4 separate regions of the Homo sapiens genome follow, and regions 2, 3 and 4 are each reported to be linked to region 1. Evidence: microRNA targets listed by miRTarBase, many of them from high-throughput screens and not tested one by one. Region 1 holds a microRNA gene; each other region holds the end of a gene's coding sequence.
What was found. The annotated mature microRNA hsa-miR-519c-3p reads AAAGUGCAUCUUUUUAGAGGAU and lies in region 1 at 2,014-2,035, shown strand. An mRNA with a match to its seed (bases 2 to 7 or 8) in the 3' UTR can be bound and repressed. Matches are read on the target gene's strand: a 7mer-m8 pairs with bases 2 to 8, a 7mer-A1 pairs with bases 2 to 7 and ends in A, and an 8mer does both.

Region 1 (4,249 bases):
ACAGCCTGGGCAACAAAGTGAGACTTGTTTCAAAAAAAAAAAAAAAATTTATTGAGGAGCTTTTATGGCCTAGCCTGTGTTCTATCCTGGAGAATGTGTGTACAACAGTGTATATTCTTAAACATCATCTTAGATTCCATTTTGGATGCTTGCATGGGGACTGTGTGTCCCTGTACTGGGACTTATGTGAACACTTGGCTTCAAATCCATTGCTGTTCTCTAGAAATCCAGCCCAATTCTCATGGTTAAATATAAGGTATGTGTGGTAGGCATTGCTTTTTCTCTTTGGGGACAGAACTCAGGAGGATTGTCTCTTGATGAACAAGGCTAACCTGCTGAGCCTTTGAAGCAAGGAACTGGAGATGGTCCTTTTAGGGGTTTATATTCTGGATTCCAGAAAACATGCAGAGAGAGTCAATAAATGTATCTTTATTTTTGTGTCCATTTTAACCAGGTGAGGAAAATTCCGTCAAAAAACCCAGACTTTTGGAGCGAGAAGATCTCATGCAGTCATTCTCCAAAAGAAAGCACTTTCTGTTGTCTGAAAGCAGAGTGCCTTCTTTTGGAGCGTTACTGTTTGAGAAAAACCACGTTGAAGTTGATGCTGATCTTGGTAACACATTTGCAGAGCGTGCTTATCATCAGACTTGCATGATGTTGGGGTTCTGTTTTTGTTTAGTTGTTTTGCATCATGGGGTCTCTGTTGCCCAGGCTGGAGTGCGGTGGCGCTTCCAACCTAGATCTCTTGGGCTCAAGTGGTCCCGTGCTTGCTTTTTTTTTTTTTCTTGAAACAGAGTCTCTGTCTCTGGCCCAGGCTTGAGCGCAGTGGCATGTTATCTGCTCACTGCAACCTCTCCTCCCAAGTAGATGGGATTACAGGTGCACGTGCCACGACGCCTGGCTAATATTTGCATTTTTAGCAGAGATGCAGTTTCATCATGATGGCCAGGTTAGTCTCCAACTCCTGACCTCAGGTGATCCGCCTGCCTCAGCCTCCCAAAATGCTGAGATTATAGGTGTAAGCCACCCAGCCTAGCCTCCAATTTTTTTTAATGTGTGCTGCCAATGCAAGCACATATGTGTAGGAATTATTTTTCATGTGAGCACATAGTATATGGAACTTAATTTTTATTGATGTACGGTCTCAAAAATATATATTTTATCATATTCTTATTATACATGTAACATAGTCATATACACACAAAACACTCTTCTATACACAGAGAATACTCTCGTATCACTTTGGGTAATTTTTTGTTTGTGTGTGTATGTTTTTGTTTTTTTTTTAGATAAGGTCTGGGTCTGTCACCCAGGCTAGAGTGCAGTGGTGCCATCTCAGCTTATTGCAACCTCCACCTGCCACTTCAGCCTCTTGAGTAGCTGTCTACAGGCGCACACCACCACGCCCGGCTAACTTTTCTGTTTTCTCTACACATGAGGTATCACCATGTTGCCCAGGCTGGTCTCAAACTCTTGAACTCAAGTGATACTCCTGCCTCAGCCTCCTAAAGGGCTGGGTTTAGAGGTGTGAGCCACCACACCTCACCTGTACCTGTGTGTTTCTGCTCATTTTATTGAGGAGCTTTTACAGCCTGGCCTGTGGTCTCTCCTGGAGGGTGTTTGTGTGTGTGACAATGCATATTCTTCAACATCGTAGATTCCATTTTGGATGCCCCCGTCGGGACTGTGTGTCACTGTACTGGAACTCGAGTGAACACTTAGCTCAAAATCTATTGCTGTTCTCTAGAATCCAGCCCAATTCTCATGGTTAAATATAAGGTATGTATAGTCGGCATTGCTTTTTGAAACAAGGAACTGGAGATGGCCCTGATAGGGGTTTATGTTCTGGATTCCAGAAATCATGCAAACAGGGCCAATAAATGCATCTTTATTTTTGTGTCCATTTTAACCTGGTCAAGGAAAATTCCAACAAAAAATCAATGGTGCTGGAGCAAGAAGATCTCAGCCTGTGACCCTCTAGAGGGAAGCGCTTTCTGTTGTCTGAAAGAAAAGAAAGTGCATCTTTTTAGAGGATTACAGTTTGAGAAAAGCAACGTTAACGTTCATGCTGATCTCGGCAATACATTTGCAGAGCGTGCTTATCATCAGACTTGGATGAGGGTGGGCTTTTGTTCCTGGTTTGTTTGTTTTCTAAGACGGGGTCTCTTTTGCCCAGGCTGGAGAGCAGTGGCACTTCCAACCTAGCTCTCTTGGGCTCAGGTGGTCCTCTTTGCAGGGTCACGATCTCTGCTCACTACAATCTCCCCTTCCCGGGTTGAAGTGGTTCTCCCATCTCAGTCTCCTGTGTTGCTGGGAGTACAGGCCCATGCCACCACGCCCGGCTAATTTTTGTATTTTTAGCAGAGATGGGGTTTCACCGTGTTGACCAGGATGGTCTCCATCTCCTGACCTCGTAATCCACCTGCCTCGGCCTCCCAAAGTGCTGGGTTTACAGTCATGAACCACTGCACCCGGCCTTTGATCTTAATTTTCAATATGAGACCCATCATGAATTTGGGCATCACCTCTGCACAGGGGCCATGGTGATCTCTGTCACTCCATTCATTTCTTATGTGTGGAGCAAACATTTATGTGTAGGAGTAATTCTTTATGTGAGCATACAGTATATGGAACTTTCTTTTTTTTTGAGATAGGGTCTGGAAAATAAATGATGTACAGCCAGGCGCATGAGTATATGAGCAGTTTTTGTGTGTATACGACATGAGCGGTGGCTCATGCCTGCAATATCAACACTTTGGCAGGTTGAGGCGAGTGGATCACTTGAGGTCAGGAGTTTGAGACCAGCCTGACCAACATGGTGAAACCCTGTCTCTACTAAAAATACAAAAAATTAGCCAGCTATGGTGGCGCACGCCTGTATTCCCATCTGCTGGGGAAGTTGAGGGAGGAGAATCACTTGAACGGACAGATGGAGGTTGCAGTGAGCCAAGATCACGCCACCACACTCCAGCCTGGGCGAGAGAATAAGACTGTCTCAAAAAAAAAATATATATATACATATATATTTATATAGAGAGAGAGACTCTGTCTCAAAAAAAAAAATATATATATGGGTGTGTTTGTGTGTATATATATATTATATATGATGTATATTTCATCATATAGCCATATATATAATTATATACACAAAAAATACTCTTCTACACACAGAGATGACTGATATCACTTTGGGGTGGTTTTTGCTTGTGTGTTCTTTTAAATTTTTTTTTGCAACAAGATCTGGCTCAGTCGCCCAGGTTGGAGTGCAGTGTTTCAGTCTTGGCTCACTGCAACCTTCGCCTCCCACCCCAGCCTCCTGAATTAGTGTCTACAGGCATGTACCACCACACCTGGCCTACATTTGTATTTTTTTACAGACAGGGTTTCACCGTGTTGTACACGCTGGTCTTGAGCTCCTGAGCTCAAGTGAATCTCCTGCCTTGGCCTCCTGATGTGCTGGGATTAGAGGTATGAGCCACCACACCCAACTGGTACTTGTGTATTCCTGTTCAAATTTTATTGAGGAGCTTTTACCACCTAGCCTGTGGTCTATCCTGGAGGATGTTTGTGTGTGCGACAATGTATATAGTTCAACATCTTAGATCACATTTTGGATGTTTCCAATGGGACTGTGTGTCTCCGCACTGGAACTCAAATGAACACTTGGCTCAGAATCCATTTGCTGTTCTCTGGAAATCCAGTCCAATTCTCTTGGTTAAGTATAAGGTATGTCTAGTAGGCATTGCTTTTTCTGTTTGAGAACAAAACTCGGGAGGATTGTCCCTTGATGAACAAGGCTAACCTGCTGAGCCTTTGAAGCAAGGAACTGGAGATGGTCCTTTTCAGGCGTTTTATTCTGGATTCCAGAAAACATGCAAACAGGGCCACTAAATGCATCTTTATTTTTCTGTCCATTTAAACCTGGTCAAAGAAAATTCCAACACGAAACCCAGAGTGCTGGAGCAAGAAGATCTCAAGCTATGAGTCTACAAAGGAAAGCGCTTTCTGTTGTCAGAAAGAAGAGAAAGCGCTTCCCTTTTGAGGGTTACGGTTTGAGAAAAGCAGTGTTGAAGTTGATGCTGATCTTGGTAATACATTTGCAGAGCATGCTTATCATCAGACTTGGATGATAGCGGGGTTATGTTTTGGTTTTGTGTTTTTCTAAGACAGGGTCTCCGTTGCCCAGGCTGGAGTGCGGTGGCACTTCCAACCTAGCTCTCTTGGGCTCAAGTGATCCTCTTTTTATTTA
Region 2 (4,000 bases), not on the chromosome of region 1:
TGGTTGTTGCAAAGGCCTTTTAAGCCCCACAGGCCAGCTCAACTATCCAATTCTAGCTTGTTAAGAAACCCCTGGCCCCTGCGTAACGAGCCCTGTTCCTCTTTTCTGTCCCGCAGTCTCCAACCTGTCCCAGTATTTCAGCCCAGCCTCGGTGTCCAGCAGCCCGGCCCGCGCGCTCCTGCTGGTCGGCGTCGTCCTCCTGGCCTACTGGTTCTTGTCCCTGACCCTGGGCTTCACTTTCAGCGTCCTGCACGTGGTGTTCGGCCGCTTCTTCTGGATCGTGCGGGTCGTCCTGTTTTCCATGTCCTGCGTGTACATCCTGCACAAGTACGAGGGCGAGCCGGAGAACGCGGTGCTGCCGCTGTGCTTCGTGGTGGCCGTCTACTTCATGACCGGGCCCATGGGCTTCTACTGGCGAAGCAGTCCCAGCGGCCCCAGCAACCCCAGCAACCCCAGCGTGGAGGAGAAGCTGGAGCACCTGGAGAAGCAGGTCAGACTGCTCAACATCCGTCTCAACCGGGTGCTCGAGAGCCTGGACCGCTCCAAGGACAAGTGAAGGTCAGCCGGCCGGGCGGGTCCACAGTTACCAGCACGCTGTCTCAGAAAACGAAAACGGAGGAAAAAAACCCCAAACCCCAAACAATCTTAATAAACACGACTGAGCAAGAAAGTGGCGCTGTGTAGGGCTATTTCCACCCACCCGGCAGCTCTTAGGACACATTCCCAGAAGAGCGGAAAGATCATTGACGTGGAACTACACACGAAGTGTAATTAGTGGGGGAAAAAATATTTTTTAAACAAAGGATATAACCATATTTAGTTGTACAGTAAGAGAAATTTATCTGTGCATAGAGCATAAAGTTAATTTTTTCAAGCATTTAAATACATCTTTTGTAAGGTTTTTTAATAAAGGCAGATTGAGTCAAGTTTATTAAAACTTTACATGGAGGGGAAGAATATGCTAATTTGACATTTGAGAAAAGTTTAAATGCGAGCGTTTGTTTTCACAGCTTAGGGATTGGTGGGTGAGGTCTGTGTGCGTTATTTTCATGTTCCCAAACTGTGAGCTTTATTTCATGTTATTTTTGGTGGATGTTGACTTAGTTCATGAATGTTGTCACTTCTAAATGTGGACAGTTGGGCTGCAGGATGCAACTCAACCTCTTTTGGATCCTAGAGACCCCTGCCAAGCCCCCATCAGTCCTATTTTTAAATGAAGACATCGCCATTTCTAGAAGACCTGAGATTTTCTTCCCTCTGTGCTTCGATGTATTTTAACCTCAACATTTTGAAACGGAAAATGCAAGGAGGGGCCAAGAAATGTCCTGGGGATTTGATGCCAGGAAGTACCTGGTAAGGATTGGAGATTGCTCCAGAATCTACTGCATGTCCCAATTTGCAGTTTGCTCACTAGGGCTATATACAAAAGCTATACCCTTGAGGGTTTTTTTTTTTTTCTTTTGATTTCCTCAGGACCTTAGAGGGAAAACAAACAGTAGCAGCTAATATTCTCAAGTATATTGCTGCTTAGAAAGATCCTCAGGAACAATTAGCAGCAATAAGCAAGCCTTTGAAAAGATCTGAATTCTTTTTCCTGAAATATTTACGATACACAGGTGCTTTTTATCTGAAATCTGTTGTGTCCTCCTTTTAGGCAGTCTCTGTGGGCAGAGAGTGGGACTTGCGAGGTGGACAGCTGTGGGGATCCTGGGCAAGGGAGTTTCAGAAGGTGTGGCTCAGGGGCTGGTAGAAACCCCCTTTTGTTAGGACTTGTTTTTTAAAAAAGAAAGCCCTAGGCCAGGCGCAGTGGCTGATGCCTGTAATCCCAGCGCTTTGGGAGGCCGAGGAGTATGGATCACCTGAGGTCAGGAGTTCAAGACCAGCCTGGCCAACATGGTGAAACCCCCGTCTCTACTAAAAATACAAAAATTAGTCAGGCATGGTGGTGGGTGCCTGTAGTCCAGCTACTCAGGAGGCTGAGGCAGGAGAATTGCTTGAACCTGGGAGGTGGAGGTTGCGGTGAGCCGAGATCACGCCACTGCACTCCAGCCTAGGCAACAGAGCAAGACTTCATCTTAAAAAAAAAAAAAAAAGCCCAGCATTTTGCAGCTTTGAAGCTGCTGGGGATCACGACTGTCTCTGTGGCCCTTACCTGGCCACAGATGTACCCTGGCAACCCGCTCACAGTGCCCTGCGTGCAGGTTTATAGATAACCCCTGCCAGACCTGCTACAACCAAGACCTTATGGTCCAGGTCTCAGTTTGGAGAAGATTTAGCTGTCTACCACTTCTTGTGTAGTGTTCCTGTGAAGTTTTATTTTTGGTTGCAAGTATCTGGAAAACAGATGCAGATGTTTTTGTGGATGTTGTTGAGACTTTTGAGACTTCTGTTTCTAAGGTACACATGATGGGACCCAAACTCTCCTGGAGAGTTCCATTCACTTCCTGAAACGTGCACCTGTTTCAGGTGCATGTTTATTCAGTGTGCATGGATATTTAAGATTTGCTGGAGCAGGCTGGGCAGGGTGGCTCACCCCTATAATCCCAACACTTTGGGAGGCCAAGGCAGGTGGATCACCTGAGGTCAGGAGTTTGAGACCAGCCCGGCCAACAGAGTGAAACCCCGTCTCTACTAAAAATACAAAAATTAGCCAGGCCTGGTGGTGGGCGCCTGTGATCCCAGCTACTTGGGAGGCTGAGGCTGGAGAATCGCTTGAACATGGGAGGCGGAGGTTGCAGTCAGCTGAGATCATACCACCACACTCTAGCCTCAGCAACAGAGTGAGACTCCGTCTCAAAAAAAATTATTTGCTGGATCGAATCTTTTTTTTTTTGAGATGGAGTCTCACTGTCAACCAGGCTGGAGTGCAGTGGCACCATCTCGGCTCACTGCAAGCTCCGCCTCCTGGGTTCACGCCATTCTCCTACCTCAGCCTCCCAAGTAGCCGGGACTACAGGCGCCCACCATCATGCCCGGCTAATTTTTTATATTTTTAGTAGAGACGGGGTTTCACCGTGTTAGCCAGGATGGTCTCGATCTCCTGACCTCGTGATCCGCCCGCCTCGGCCTCCCAAAGTGCTGGGATTACAGGCGTGAGCCACCGCGCTGGGCCTAGATCAAATCTTTATCCATGCACATTGGAACACAGGATTACTGGGTTGAAATCATTCTAGTTTTGTCATTTAGATACTTGTAGATGAATCTATTTTAGCACAAGGTATAAATAACTCGGGAGGTCATCTCTATCTTCTTTCCTTTTGTGCATTTGGCTATACCACGTTTAGGTACTAAAACAGCTTTGCTTATGTTGGCCAGGGGAAAACATGGCATTCTGTGCGCAAAGCTAATGATCGCCAGCCCTGCCTTGGCCCCTCCCTTGTTTATGGTCATTGTAAGATGCCCGCATGTTAAGGCTTAAGCTGTCACTGGGCTGGGTGTAATACCCGCTTCATTCCTCCTCCCACCCTCTTACCCGAAACATGAAGGGCACTGTGCTCTATTGAGATCTCGATAAGATCATCATTTTAACTTGTATTCAACTGAGGGAGGTAACATGATATCTGGGTGCTGGTGGATTGAGACCTCAAGCATCAATTCAAAATTGCTGTCGAAAATATGCACTATTTTTTTTTTCCACTCTGGCTAAGTGTAGGCTCTGAAGCCAGTTTTATAGCTTGATACATTCTGGTGAAAGATGTCTTCATTTTTAATGAAAGAACCTACAGTTAGTAGGTGTCACCTCAGGGTAGAAATTCTGATAGAAATTCTGATTATTTGAAACTCTGATAGAAATCCTAGATGCTAGATTTGAAGAAAACCTGGGTTTTATTGCATAGATTTCACCTTTTCTGGGGCACATCTTACCCCAAAATAATTGGGGATTTTTTTGTTCCTTCTCCATTCCATGGAACCTTGTAGGGTGTTGGGATTGGGCCTCCCCTCGCCACCCGCCACATGTCTTTGTTTTTTTCTCTCTTTTGTATGTGGAAAAATGTATTTT
Region 3 (4,000 bases), not on the chromosome of region 1:
AGGGACCATTGTCTACAGAGACCAACTGGGATATTGCCCACATGATCAGGTGAGTAATAGGGAAAAAATTGGTGACAGACTTGGGAGGTCTTTGGCTTACACTAAGCTGGGCTTTTCTGGGAGGCTCACCCAGGAAAATTTTCTGGGTGGAAAGTTTTGGTTGGACAGTACAGCTATTTTTAGGAATTGATCCCTTTATGCTTCACAATTTTATTATTCTGTCTTCCTTTTTTAGTGGCTTTGAATGAAATACAGATGCATTATCCAGAACTGAAGTTGCCCTACTTTTAACTTTGAACTTGGCTAGTTCAAAGATAGACTCTTCTTTTGTAAAGTAAATAAATTCTTCAAAATGCTTGCTGAGTGGTTTTTGTCTGACTGGGTCACACCAAGTGCAAAACTGCTGAGTACTGCCATGTGCCATCTCCCTCCCTGGTCGGAGAACCCTTGTGGTCTTGCAGCACACACAGAAATTCTCTCTGCACAACACAGAAAGACACACTAGCGTCATTTGGAGCTGTATTAGAAGCAGAGCTTCCTGTAGAAGCCAGACTTAATTTTTGTGTGCTAACTGGCTTTTGTGTTCAAATTCCCCTCCCAAATCTTCCTCCACTGCACTGGATTATCAAATACAGATTTCTTAATGTTGGCTGTGATTTTCATTAAAATACCACTTTAAAAATAATCTAGTAGAACTATTCTGCATCAGGTTGCCCTCAAGTCAGCTGGGGCATCAGCCATCCCTGGAATGGTTCTAAACCTGAATATTTTAGAGACAAAAGTCTCATTCTGTTGCCCAGGCTGGCGTGCAGTGGCATGATCATAGCCTACTACAGCCTTGAATTTCTGAGCTCAAGCAACCTCCTGCCTCAGCCTCCCAAGTGCTGGGATTACTGGCATGAGCCATCATGCCCAGCTTGAATTTTTAAAATGAACACTGTAGGCGATTCTGACACAAATCCTCTCCAAACTTCTTGAGAAAGAAAATATAGGCAGCAAATTCAAAGTACAGAAATTCAGTGAGAACTGAAGGAAAAAATAAAACCATCCCTCCATTTGCATTGTCCGTTAACAACAAACTTGTAAAGCCAAACAATGAGCTTTCAATCTGAAACCTCCACACATTCAGTCTCAACACAGGAAACAGTCAATAAATACATGTTTATTGATTAAACTGAATTATAAAAAACAAAACCAAAAAAAAATTTCCTTCTACTACTAAGCCATGCAGGCAGAGTCCACAAAGACAACTTCCTGGCCAAAACCCAGCTGATCCACTGTTGGTATAATCTTAAAAAAAATTACCCATCAAGAAAGTCAATCGTGTGCAGAAGACAGGAACCCCAGCTCTGCTAAGGCTGTGGCTGCTGCAGAGACTACCAAAGAGTAGGATTAGGTTGTAGATAGACGTGACCAACCATAGTTCTTGAACTTTCTCAAAGGCAAAGGCTGACTTCAAAGTCCATTGTCTGTCAATAAAATGGCATCAGGCAAAAAGCTGGGGAAGAGAAGCCCAGATGGATCCTTGGTTGTTTTCAGATGTCAAAGGTTCACAAAGCTGGCCAAGCTGTTTCTGGAAGGGACTTTTCCAGTTCACTATATTATAGTGTGCTGGGGGATGAAAAAACAAACAAACAAAAAAGCAGGGTGGGGTGGGAGAAATGGGTGGTAACAAATGTCACACCTGTACCACCAGGCCCATCACATCTTGAGCATTCCCCAGTCTGTGAAAGCCTATTAAACAGGGTCACCTAGAAAAAAAACAAGTTTATAAATCCATTTCCCCTCATTTTATTAAATGTTCCACTTATGTACATTTTAAAGACGAACCATTTACAAGCTTGTGCAGTTTGCCTCCTTGGCTCACAGGAGGGGAACATTGTGGAAAGCCTCAGGATAAACAGAAGACTTGGTTTTTTGCTCCTTTTCTCTGTACGGTACAGTACGTTTTGGTTTACAACCATGAGTACATACAATTAAAAAAATCCCTCATGCAAATTGTAGAAAAAATTTTCTTTCCTTGAAGCTGGCAGTGAAAAATAAAGATTCATGTCATTTTCTTTGTGCACACCCCTGTGCGCTTCTTCCTGTCAGATTCTTCCCTAAGTATTAAGAGAAATAGGGGAAAGCCACAGAGCACGCTGGATTTCAACAAGTGGTCTTGTCTTTTTAAAGTTCAACACTTCTTGAACAATTAGCTCCTGGCTGTAGGACCAGTAATCCCTTAAACAGGCATGCTCTCCATCTAACAGGATGAAGTTCAGTAAAGCAGGGACTGCCCCTGGGGGCTTACAGGATGAAGACTCAAACTGGGAATGGCTTCCACCCTAAAACTGTTTGATCGCTTCAGTATCTCTTGCTTGCTAATAACACCTGTATGATCCTTTGTCCAGAGGGATGGATGGTGTTGAGAATGGGGAAAGGGGCCAAGGATCACAAGTGCAAAAAATATTGTTTATGTCATGTTTTGGAGGGAAGGTGGTGAGGAAAAGACAAATCTATTCATTCTGGATAATTAAAGGTGGTTTCATGCATTTTTAAAGCCACAATTTTATATCTAGGGTTGCTGTAGAAACCAACATCTCTGGAGAGGGAAGGAAAGAAAAGGAGAAGGAAGAGAGAGTTCAGTGGGACTTTTTTTCCATTTTCATTTTTATATAAAAGTGTTAAGACCACAATGAAAAAAGTTTTTTATCCATATATATAATAAACCAGTTTGTGAGCTACATAATTTGTCTTTCCCATCTTCAGAAATGTTCTCACATTAACAATGATTAGATAGCATCATGCCCAAAGACATTGGCCACACAATAAAACAAACAAAAAAACCCAGTACTATGATACAATTGAGGTAAAAGGGGAAACAAAAAAATTTAACATTTGCCCACAAATAATTTTTTTTCTTTTTCTTAATTTTGTCAGAAAAATACCAAACACAGTGATTTAAATTTAAAAAAAAAAAAAGTCACAAAAACCTGTTTTTAGCAGAAGTGAATGACCAATGGGCCAGCTCCTTGGCTCAGACGTGATTACTATTGGTTTTCCTAATTAATCCACAAATCCACAGGGAAGTGTAAGTCAACTTCAGGGGGGAGTGGTGGTATAAAATTAAAAAATAGAAACCAAATACCCCACCTGGTATGCCCCCTTTTCCCTAAGCCCCTTTACCCTCCCTCACATGTTCCCACCCTCACTCCACACCCCCTCATGACCCCAACACTCAAATCTCCATCAGATCTAGGTCAGCTTCTTCAAAGCCATAGAAAGACTCGGTCTCACTTTCACCCTCAAAGAGCTGGTGAAGACTTTCAGGCTCAATTGTCTCTTCAGGAGATGATCTGGGTCGTGGAGTGGAAGACTCAGAATGTTCCCCACTCAGCTTCAGTTGCTCCTCTAGGGAGGCAATTAGCTCCTCCTGCATGTCAGCATTTCTTGTAGGTGAGTTAATGTTGCCATCGGGGCCAGGCAGAACACTAGCCACCAGGAAGGAGCGCTGAACTAGCTCTGGACAGTCCCCAATGACACCTAGCACTTCACCCAGCCAGACAAGCACCAGCTGAAGCAGGACATCAGAATCACATGCAGTATCTGCCATTTCCCGAGCCTGTTCCTTCCATTTTTTATGCAGGAAGTTCTTGACAGTTCTTTTGATGCATACATCTAATGGCTGAATTTTGGAGCTACAGCCTGCTGGGACCACTGCAGGCAAAGTGCTAGAGGCACTAAGCATAGCCAGTACCTCTTCTGACAAGTGAGTGCGATGACAGTCCATCACAAGCATGCCTTTGCTGCGCTGGCAAGCTGTGTGCTTCTGCCACACTCGAGTTGACCACAGCTCCATGATCTCGTCATCACTGTAGCCACTCTCCTTTGCCTCTAGCAATATGGAGTCTGGCATGTTAGCAGGCTGATCCATCTGCCCTCTGTAGAAAACCAGGGTGGGAAGGACAGTGCCATCTGCCAGAATGGCTAGGACTACATCACACCAAGGTTCCCCTGT
Region 4 (4,000 bases), not on the chromosome of region 1:
AGATAACACATATTTCAGAGGGCTGATGGTTTTGGAAAGGTAAAATCATGAGTCCAGTGTTCATTTTTTTCTCTCTTAATTATCAGGTACTTCATAGACAGCAGTCTCAGCCAGCCAAGGAGAGTTCCCCTCCCAGAGAAGAAGCGCCTCCCCCACCTCCTCCGACTGAAGACAGTTGTGCCAAAAAGCCCCGGTCTCGCACAAAGATCTCCTTAGAAGCCCTGGGGATCCTCCAAAGCTTTATTCATGATGTAGGCCTGTACCCAGACCAGGAAGCCATCCACACTCTTTCGGCTCAGCTGGATCTCCCCAAACACACCATCATCAAGTTCTTCCAGAACCAGCGGTACCACGTGAAGCACCACGGGAAGCTGAAAGAGCACCTGGGCTCCGCGGTGGACGTGGCTGAATATAAGGACGAGGAGCTGCTGACCGAGTCAGAGGAGAACGACAGCGAGGAAGGCTCCGAGGAGATGTACAAAGTGGAGGCTGAGGAGGAAAATGCTGACAAAAGCAAGGCAGCACCTGCCGAAATTGACCAGAGATAATGTGAACTTCTACTAGGCAAAGCAATACATCGGTCCAAGGATTTTCTGCTTTCATTTCTTTAAAAGTTTTTTGTTAGTTTGTTTTTTGTTTTTGTTTTTGGGTTTTTTTGGCTTTATTTTTGTCTTTTTATGTCTGTTTTGTTTTTCTTACCCTTTTGGACATTTCTTTGTTGCACAGGATACACCTATAGACTGAATAAGTTCAGTATTTCCGAATCAGACATCGCCTTGGCAAAGACACTAAAGCGTTACACTTTATCCCGTCTCTATGACTGGATCATAGTCATTATAATCACAGGAGACTCTGCCTTCATTATCCTTGCACTTAACGGAAGTTACATCAGGCAAGTACCAGGATGAAAAGAACTATGAAATAAATGAAGGAAGCTACAAGTGTGTGTGTATATGTATATGTATATATCTCTATATTTACATATATATATTAAAATTGCATGGGACAGAGACTTTGCAATCCGAAAGAATAGACTGTGAAATGAGTTCTTAAAGAAAAGACTTGTTTATGTATTAAAAAAACCACTTCACAGTGAGTCGCTTTGGCTTTTTGATAAACTGCGGCCTGCTCTCAGGGTGGGGTGACTATTTTTGAATTCCTATTTATTTTTTGTGTTTGTCCCTGATTTTTTTTTTTTAATTCTATGGCTTCCTATCTGGCAGCTTAATGGGTAATTTTTGAGGTATGTATTTAACAAAATAAACGACACTGCCGAAAAAAAAAAAAGTGAAGTGAAAACAATCAGGGCACATTAAAATGATACAAGTCAAATAAATCTTAAAGACACAATGCACACTTAAAATGACTCAATAAAATGACTTGCTACGTTCCGTTATTCAATTTGTCATTACTGTAGTGAACAGATGCATTTCTGTGGAATTCCAAATAAGTAAAACTGAAATTCAGTGCAGAGAAAACTTTGTCCACTAGTGCAAGTCTTGATCAAATGACATTTTGACATTGGACATATGGAATTCATAGTATGAGCCACATTTTGTTGTGAAATTTATTTACCTGCTTGTGGCTTCAAATCTGAAAATTAATAAGCCTGCTCGTTTAAAAGTTGTTTGTTGTTGCTGTTTTTTTGTCTTTTTGTTTTTTACTAGAAAATAGTTCAGTGTAATATTAAGTTAGAAAAGAAGTTGCTGCCCAGTTAAAGGGGCTCCCTCTCAAATAAATCTCCATCCTTCCCTCTCCCAAAAGACATTTCTGATTTCTGCTTCACTTTGGGCTTCCTCTTCTTCGTACACATTCCATCTACCTAATCAAACATTTTCAGTCCCTGATCTCTCCTGTCCCTTTTCCTGGGATGACAGCCCTAACAAGAACTGTTTTTGAATCGTTGTGCAGCTCCAGGCAATAGAGTATGTGAAGCGATTTCAGTAGAATCACTTACTCATCCTAAAAGAAAACATTATCCCAGTTACCTACATCGCAATTACCTTATGTAAAGCAGAACTAATGCTGACTGGATGTTTAATGGGATGAGCATTAAAGCTGCAATCTACTATAGTACTCCAGATCTCTTTCGGCTTCCTATGAGAAACACCAGAAGCATTACTTTCCACTTCTACTTACAGTAATTGCAAGAGGAGACCTCACATTCAGGACTGGCCTAGTGAACGTAATCCATGCTTTAAACTGGCCATTAAACAGTCCCACATGGTTGGATTTTTTTTTTTTTTTTGAGTTGTGCTTTCACAAAACCTTGTCAAAGACCTCATGCAATATCACTTTGAAAGTTATTTTCTGTTTACTACACAAACATTGTAATATAACTGTTAATACTATTTATATATTTGAAAGGTATAAAAGGTAGGAGTTAAAAAAAAAACCTCTATGTGTAGATATTAACTCAGAACTTACAATATACAGGGAGAAGACATGTTGCAATACAAGCTAATTCTAGCTGCTCAGTAACCTCTGGAGTTTTTAAAGGGACATTTTCCTGTACTTTTTCAAATAATGATGTTTAAAAATTATCTTGACATAAGCGTCATATACCTTTGCAAAAGGATGGTTGTTTGCAGTTAGCCCTGGCCCCATCCTTCCTATTTCTGTAGTATGCTGCAGCTTTAATCAGAAAGTCCATGGTTGCTGCTTCCTGATCTCCGAGTTACTCTTTCCAAATTGTCTTCTTACACTGTTGCTGAAGGTCACTCTGTACACGTAATGGAAACTGATTTTGCCAAGCTCTTACAAGGTGGTTCATCTATCGATGGCATCCGCATTTGGTATCTTTTACACTTCAACCAAAAATTTATTAGGTATTTTTCAATGCTAAGTCTTGCCTTTTATTTTTTAATTTCACTGCCAAGTTTGCAGTGGTTCTAAGTGAATCTGTGGGCATTTTAGCCTGTGGTCTTGCCAGATCTTTGCGAATTACAATGCATATATGTCTATTTATTCAATATCTGTCATATAATATCTATTTGGAAGAAGAAACTTTCTCTTGTAGTGCCTCTTGACAAAGCACAATTTCCCGCCTTTTTTTTTTTTTGTGAAATGAAAAAAACAAATTGTGTTTTATTGCGGTATCAACAATGTGAATAAGGATTAACATATTGTAAATGTTCTTTTTTCCATGTAAATCAACTATCTTTGTTATCACTAAGTGATAATTAATTTTTAACTTATGTGCATTGTTAGGCTGTTAGAATTTTTTGGTTGTTAAAATAAACGCATTCAATAAATATGACTTTGTTTGTCAGTTATTTTACTGGGCATTATCTGCTTTCCCACTTAATTTTTCATGCAGAGAGAGACCTGGTGAGTCTTAGGAAAATTTGTACCCTTATTTTAGAAACAAGACAGTGGTACCTGCAATTACAGATATATGAGTCCTGTACAGTGCATGGATTTAATAGCACATGTGAATGTATGTGTGTCTCTGTGTGTATATAAACACATGCATGCTCACTTCCTTTATCCAATCTTTTGTCATATACAAACAAAACTCAAATGTATAAAGATATATTTATAGGCTGCTGTTTTATTTTTCTAGTGAATATTTTCTGTTTATAATTAAAAAACCACAAATGACTGCGTGTCAGGAAACTTTTGGAGCACATATGTCCATGGTTAATGGACATAATAAAAGTCTTTTATATTTAGAGCTGGGGTACCATAATGTGTGCATGGAGGAATGCTGAAAGGATTGATGTATCTGAGAAATGTGTGAAAATGATTTTTTAGAAAGTACTTACAATGGAAAAAACTGCTCAAAAGACTAATGTTAATAAGGAAAGAGCAAGTGCTTCGCTTCAGAACTGGCAAAGAAAAAGTAAATTAAAAAGTGATTTTGTTTTCTTTTGATATTGTAAATGTTTTTCCTGTTTATTTTTTTTTCCATTTTTCTGCATTTGATTGACATACAGATGTAACTTCTCTTTCTTCCTCGGTTTCCCTTACCTTTTTTAACAGCCCATGAACCATGTAG

Region 2: the mRNA of BRI3BP is a reported target of hsa-miR-519c-3p. The part of its 3' UTR that is shown has no 7-base or 8-base seed match.
Region 3: the mRNA of POGZ is a reported target of hsa-miR-519c-3p. Seed matches in the 3' UTR shown: 7mer-m8 at 2,438-2,444.
Region 4: the mRNA of SATB2 is a reported target of hsa-miR-519c-3p. Seed matches in the 3' UTR shown: 8mer at 869-876.

The regions. Positions count from the first base shown.
Region 1 is chr19:53,684,509-53,688,757 of GRCh38, forward strand. MIR519C (microRNA 519c) reads left to right here and starts at 1,961; the gene lies at 1,961-2,047. MIR515-2 (microRNA 515-2) reads left to right here and starts at 501; the gene lies at 501-583. It overlaps MIR1283-1 (microRNA 1283-1), which reads left to right and starts at 3,973; the gene lies at 3,973-4,059. All of the region lies in intron 2 of LOC107985342 (a long non-coding RNA gene), which reads left to right.
Region 2 is chr12:125,024,875-125,028,874 of GRCh38, forward strand. BRI3BP (BRI3 binding protein) reads left to right here. Exons shown (of 3, transcript NM_080626.6): 3 at 117-4,000. The coding sequence ends at 556. It overlaps THRIL (TNF and HNRNPL related immunoregulatory long non-coding RNA), which reads right to left and starts at 2,549. Exons shown (of 1, transcript NR_110375.1): 1 at 569-2,549.
Region 3 is chr1:151,401,582-151,405,581 of GRCh38, forward strand. POGZ (pogo transposable element derived with ZNF domain) reads right to left here. Exons shown (of 19, transcript NM_015100.4): 19 at 1,143-4,000. The coding sequence ends at 3,221. It overlaps PSMB4 (proteasome 20S subunit beta 4), which reads left to right. Exons shown (of 7, transcript NM_002796.3): 6 at 1-49; 7 at 236-356. The coding sequence ends at 248. Among named protein-coding and RNA genes, the nearest start is that of PSMB4, 4.0 kb to the left of the region's middle.
Region 4 is chr2:199,268,759-199,272,758 of GRCh38, reverse strand. SATB2 (SATB homeobox 2) reads left to right here. Exons shown (of 11, transcript NM_001172509.2): 11 at 87-3,254. The coding sequence ends at 548. Among named protein-coding and RNA genes, the nearest start is that of SATB2, 190 kb to the left of the region's middle. RefSeq lists an enhancer at 1-874.